2 linked regions of the Homo sapiens genome follow. The protein of the gene in region 1 purifies or fractionates together with the protein of each later gene. This does not show direct contact. Each region holds a gene or a part of one and is shown on either strand. Other genes may lie near its edges.

Evidence for each region.
Region 2: the proteins of BBS12 (region 1) and PTPDC1 purify together in Homo sapiens (affinity purification with mass spectrometry; one large-scale study listed by BioGRID and IntAct). This does not show direct contact.

Annotation. Positions count from the first base shown.
Region 1 is NC_000004.12:122,742,702-122,745,765, reverse strand, and holds the end of BBS12 (chaperonin-containing T-complex member BBS12), read right to left. Parts: coding exon 1,741-3,064; 3' UTR 827-1,740; downstream 1-826. UniProt on the Homo sapiens protein: Component of the chaperonin-containing T-complex (TRiC), a molecular chaperone complex that assists the folding of proteins upon ATP hydrolysis.
Region 2 is NC_000009.12:94,104,740-94,108,567, reverse strand, and holds part of PTPDC1 (protein tyrosine phosphatase domain-containing protein 1), read right to left. Parts: intron 741-3,828; coding exon 624-740; 3' UTR 1-623. UniProt on the Homo sapiens protein: May play roles in cilia formation and/or maintenance.

The sequences.
Region 1 (3,064 bases):
CAGCTACTTGGGAGGCTGAGGCAGGAGAATTGCTTGAACCCAGAAGGTGAGGTTGCAGTAAGCCAAGATCACGCCACTGCCCTCCAGCCTGGGCAACAGAGGGAGAGTCTGTCTCCAAAAAAACCAAAAATGTTATATGCAGATTTTTGATTGTGCAGGGCGTTGTCATCCCTGTCCACTGTTGTTCAAAGGTCAACTGTAGATGATGTTCCAGTGGTTGAAATCAGAAGCCACTTCCAACAGCTTTGACTGTGGTGTTTTCATATCTCTACCAGTAGGAATGGCTGGTAAACCCAGACAAAATTTAGGGCCCTGTTTGACCAGTCGTTTTTTGAGACTGGAGAGATTTACAGCACTCAATTCCTTTGGCAATGAAACAAATAAATGCTGTCTCTTTGGCCTCACCAGCAAAAAGGAGGCTCAACACCTTACTAAGACTCTACCAGTATAGGAGGCAGTACATGATGCCATCATGGGTGGCTCCCATATGTGAACATGTAGAAACACAGGGACCAGCACAACCTTGTTTCATTCTGATTGAACTTATGCTTCTCTAAATTTGTCAGAGTGGCCTTGGATTATACCATGTATAGCAACCGAGGCTGCAACTACTCAGTGACACTACTTATGTGACTGAAATCCACATATGATGATTTAAATCAGATTTGACAATACTTCTGAACTAGAGTAACCTGGACCCTTTGGGCTTATGTACTTGTATGTGGGGAAAATAAGCCATAGAAGGGCTCTCCATAGGGAACAGGTTTGTTTTTTGGCCCAGCTATTGCACCCATAATTATTGATAATAACACCACATATCAGTACGTCAGTCAAAGCTCCCTTTATTGGGTCATAAAGTATAATAAATTGTCCTTCACTACATTCTGGCTGCCTAATAAAAAGACCTATTGGTCCTCCCTTGGAACTTAGAGTTGATTGAGTCAAGACCTTGGGGGACAGGACTGAGGTTAATACTGCAGGTTGGCTTCATCCTGCTGCTGTGTCTGATAATAGCCTGCATTAATTGCTATATGAGACCAAATGAACAAATTTGGTACTGACTAAACAACCCGACTGTCAGGTTAATCAGAGTAGCTGATAGAGTGGCATACTCATGTGAAAATTCAAGTTTGGCCAAGAACATCTCAGGCTGAGGAGCAGACTGTTGGAAGAGACTATCCACTATGGGCTCTGAGTGTCCCTGCATACTTACTGGGTATGTCAAGAATGCAAGGACTTTGTCTTTACCTAGTCCATGTCCTAGGCTTGTGTTTACACTAAGCTATCTTCAAGTATGGGGTAATAACTCCCTTTGGACAAAGACCAGGATTTTTTTGCTTACTATAAAAGCAGTTAATAACCCAAGCTTACAACATAACCCACTGTGTGCAGGCTTTCATCATGGGCCCTTTGTGTTCCTCCTGTGGGAACTAGAAAAATGAGGAACTGAATAAAACCAACATGAAGCTCTGGCTACAGCTTTTGCTGTGAGCGATAAGTCCTTTGTTTCTGACCCAGGTGTCTTATGCATTCTGTAGCATCCCACGAAACAGTAACAGGCTAACTTGTTAGCTTATAAGTAGGGTAAAATCTCAGACCATGCACAGTTATTGACAGACATCAACTATTTTCTTCTTGGCAATAGCTGGCATTTTAGGCACCATGACTTGGCTATCAATATATTTATTATTAGCATGACATATTATGAAAAATTATTTTCCAAAGACTTAGCCAGTAACACTACAAAAATAGAAAGCCCGTTAATTCCTGTGAATTTATCTGTGTGTGTCCATGTCCAGTAATTATTTCACTGTCTGTCTGAAGTACTAACAATACTAAATCCAATGCTCGGCGCCACGCCTCAATCTTTGGTGTAACAACGTCATAAACTCTCGGAATCTGCTCCAGTTTATTTGAAATGTCTGAATTAAAAATTCTACTATTTAGTTTACTATATTCATTCAAGATGTAAGATGAAGGAGAGCCAGAGTCTGTGGCATTTTGCAGATGATGTTGAATGTATGTGCTGGCTTCAAATTCTGATGAGTAATTGGCAGTGTTATATAGGAGAGTTGAAAGGTATTTCTGCCATCCATTTGCCAGGAATTTAAGCACAGTTGGTCTGTATATTGCCAGAGATGAAGCCAGCCAAGAGGAAGTATTATGCAGCCACCCTGAGCAGGCATGGTTTTCTTTTTTCAGAGATTGCTCTGCAAGAATATGAAGACAGCTAAGACACAAAAATTCAACTGCACCACCTCCAAGGAAGACCTTTTCCTCTTTTAGAGCATAATACAAACGATAGGCACATGTCCAGAACCTATCTTCTTTGATTTGCATCTGTGCAGTAACTGGGTTAGTGAGCACGGCCGTAACCAAATTAATTCCTTCTGTTTTTAATAAGATTGCGATTCTGTTGTTCCTATCTACAACATCCAAAGGGCTGCTTCTCCAGAAGGTCACGCAGACCCCGTCGCCCACACAATCTTCATTCACTTGTGTAATGTAGGCCACCTGTACTGCTCCTGCAGCCTCTGCAAAAGCCTGCATCACACTGCCATTCACTGAGCCGATTACCAACCGCTTACTGTTTATACATTTTTCAATTAAGCGTTCGGACACATTTCCTTGTACCAGGACAAGGTTCACCTTGAACTGGATTAACACCTGTAACACGTGATTTGCCCACAGTTCTTCTGAGCTGTCTTCTTGAAGCCGCATGCTATCTAATACTGTTTTAATATTTGCAGACTTATTAAATCCCAGGTGGCGGTAATTCTCTGTGAGGTCACCCTCAATGAGAACTATTCGCACAGGCTGATTCTGCAATTCCTTGATCACAGGATTATTAGATACTGACACAACAGTGATATATCCTGGACAAACACAAGAAGAAGTTTCAGGTAAGCCTGGTAGACAGCAAGTGAAAATTCTTGAAATGTCAAACATAAATGGTTTTGTACAGTTGCCTTGTTGCACACAAGCATTCTGATATTGCAGCTGTACTGCTTCTTCTACTAACTTCATGCTGCTGTGATCTCCATGACTCAAGCCTACTGCCAAC
Region 2 (3,828 bases), on another chromosome or scaffold:
CACTCCATTAAAGTAAAACTAAATCTCTCTGAAAAATAATATGCTTTGAAACCCTCTGTTACATTTATAAAAAGAAAAGGAAAAACAAAAAATTTCAAAGTTAAAAAAGAAACCTTTAAAAATATTGTAGCAATAGCCTTCTTCGTAACAAATATAAAACAGCTTAAGACACTTGGTGACTTTCTTAGTTCATCTGTGGGGGAATGGATACACAATGAGGTTTTACTACTAAAGTTAGCTATTTGGTAAAAACTCTAGGAAGAGTTCCATCAAGAAAATGGTTATTTTGGAAAGACAAGTTATGATTATTTCCAAAATGTCAAAAGAAATAAGAATGTAAACACCATATACTTAAAATGTTAATACAATAATATTAACTCAGTCAAATAAATAAAAGAAAGTGGCACCAAATTTATGGCAATTTTTCAAAACAAAAATGTAGCTTAAATATATTTTAAAATAAATAATTGGTTCAAATACGGACGACCATTCTCAGCACAAACTAACAACATTCAAAATAAAGTGCTATGAGAAAAAGTAGCCCCACAATCTTCAACTTATTCACATATGAACAGAGATACTATCTGGATCTTTAGGTCTGAAATATTCACCACGAGTGAAAGCTAGAGGCCAGGCTTAGGGCCATCTTTTGTCATTTTTCTTTTTTCTTCCAGCGTGTGCTTAAATATTTTCTTCAGGGTGTTGTAAACTGTTGGTCCATTTTCAGAATCAAAATTAACCTGGTGACAAAGAAATTTATATTCAGGACACTGTAACAAGAATTTGAACTAGTTTCTATTTTGAGAGAAGGAGGGGGTGGAGAAAAAAAACAGACTTACAAACAAAACTCTATATAAAATACACATAATAAATTTCACACATTTTATTTGAAAGACTATTAGAACTGCCAACCATGTCAATATCAAACTTATGAATGAAAACCCCAAAATTAAATCTAGTGCCTGGATATTTAGTCTAATTATATACACCCAGTCATGAAGCAAGTCAACAGTGGGTGTGAAGTGAATTTTTTGAGACTAATCATTGATGGTATAAGAGAAAAGTTTCCCATATTAAAACAGCACATCAGCTGTATACGTCCTGCTGAGAGGCCCTACGGCCACTCTGGACAGGGTCAGAGTGACCTGAATAGAAGCCCAGCTCCCCACCTGCCAGCTACATGTCCTCATCTCATACCCAACCTCTCTGGACCTTGATCTCCTCCTTTGTAAAACAGAGATAATGATACCCACCTTCATAGGATAGCGTATCTATGAGTCTAACATGTTTGGCACATATATACAAACCTCAACTGGCTGGGTGTGGTGGCTCATGCCTGTAATCCCAGCACTTTAGGAGGCCGAGGTGGGAGAGTTGCTTGAGCCCAGGAGGTTGAGACCAGCCTGGGCAACATGGCAAAACCTCATCTCTACAAAAAATTAAAAATTTAGCCAGGCATGGTGGCACATGCCTGTAGTCCCAGCTACTTGGGAGGCTGAGGTGGGAGGATTGCCGGAGCCCAGGAGGCAGAGGATGCAGTGAGCTGAGATTGTGCCACTGCACTCCAGACTGGGTGACAGAGTGAGACCTTGTCTCAAAAAACAAACAAACAAACAAACAAACAAACAAACCCCACCTTGATAAAGTAAATTTCCTTTCCCCTTGATGGGAGCGCACTATTTACACATATTTGCATTTTTCACCCAAGTTTACCATACTCTGGGTTAGCAGTGATGGCAGGACAGAGAACCAGAGCAAGTACCCACCCTCAACCCCATTCCCAGAGTAATGTGTAACTCCCTGGGAAAGAATCAGGGTCACACAATCACTGCTTCTCTGCTTCTGGAATTTCTCCCTCTCTGATAAATTTTGACAAATGAAAGGTTGTTCCCTCTGTCAACAACTGTAAAGGATCTGAGACCTTAACCTGTTAGCTTGCCAGTGTTATGGATACTGGTAGAAGATACGAGATTCCTGGGTCAGAGACAGACAACTTTTATTTCTCACAGCTGCATGTGCTTCATGTTCACATGGGTTCTCCTTGTCTCTCAAGTCTCATGGAGGCAATGCAGAAGGGCCTAGGTGGAGGCTGCACAAGCACGGGGTTTGCCTCATAGCTGAGGAGCCCCAAGCTTAGGAAACTCCAATGTTTCACAAGGGGGCTGCAAGCAAATCTGCCAACCTTTGCCCTGAAGGGAAACATTTTTATTATCCTGGAAGTCAGAACGTGTGCCTTCTGCTCTCCAGGCAGAGCTCTCCAGACATTAGTGAAGAGTTGATCCTCAAAGAGAGTGGTCAGGGCATCTGCTCATCAGACTATGAAGAGACATGAGAGACCCAAGGAAAACTGTCTCCTAACATTTTCTATAGACAGATTTTGAACAACTGTTATCTCTAACTTTTCATTCGTATCCCCTTAAAAGGCCAAAAGAAGTTGTAAAGAATTCCTACTGCTTTCAGAGAGACCAATCGTAAGGATTTTTTTCAGTTAAGCTCAGGAATTTAATTTTATCTATAACTATATTATCTATCCCCTTTGCAAAAAACTCCTTATTAACATTAATAATGGTGTGAATTGTTTACTTTTTTTTTTTTGAGATGGAGTCTTGCTCTGTCGCCCAGGCTGGAGTGCAGTGGTGCAATCTTGGCTCACTGCAAGCTCCGCCTCCCGGGTTCACACCATTCTCCTGCCTCAGCCTCCCGAGTAGCTGGGACTACAGGCGCCTGCCACCATACCCAGTTAATTTTTTTGTATTTCTTTTTAGTAGAGATGGGGTTTCACCATGTTATCCAGGATGGTCTTGATCTCCTGACCTCGTGATCTGCCCACCTTGGCCTCCCAAAGTGCTTGGATTACAGGCTTGAGCCACCATGCCTGGCCACTTTTTTTTTTTTTTTTTTGAGACAGAGTCTCGCTCTGTTGCCAGGCCGGAGTGCAGTGGCGCGATTTCGGCTCACTGCAACCTCCACCTCCCGGGTTCAAGCCATTCTTCCACCTCAGCCTCCTGAGTAGCTGGGACTGCAGGCGCACACCACCATGCCCAGCTAAATTTTTGTACTTTAGTAGAGATGGGGTTTCACCATGTTGGCCAGGATGGTCTCAATCTCCTGATCTCATGATCCACCCATCTCAGCCTCCCAAAGTGCTGGGATCACAGGCGTAAGCCACCACTCCCAGCTCTGTTTACTTTCTTAAACACCAAACCACAACCTTCTTCACATGGTGGGTAGCCTCTCAGTCTATGAAAGTGTAAATACAGATGTAAAGGACCACGCGGTTTGGATTTGAGACTACTGACTCTGGAAACAGTGGAGAACAGATTGAAAAGATGTCAGTGGTTAGTGCCATAGAATCCAGATGAGGAACAAGGAAGGCCTGAAGTAAGAACATCACTCCGGAAAGAGTGGAGGGGAAGGAGACTGGACAAATATTAAAAAGGAAGAATCTTTATAACTTGTTAATGAGTATAAATAATAACTTCTTATCATTAATGTTACCACAGATGTTGTCATTCAAAAGCTGGGTTCTTTGTTTAATGACACTTTCATATCAATGAGAGGTAACAAACAAATTATAGATACTTTCATATCAATGAGAAGTAATAAACAAATTATAGCTGATGGGGTAAGGGGAAACTTTTCTCTCAGTATGAACCTGGCTGCTTCTTCTTTCTTCAGCCAGGAAAAACTGCTGCATCCAAAAGGATGGGCTTTTAGAAAGGAAACCTTTTTTTTAACTCTTTCCTTAGGATTTGCCAACCAGGACTCAGTACTGAATTAGCAATGTGGGATGTTTAATTCTCAATAGATGGCTTCTTACTTACACCC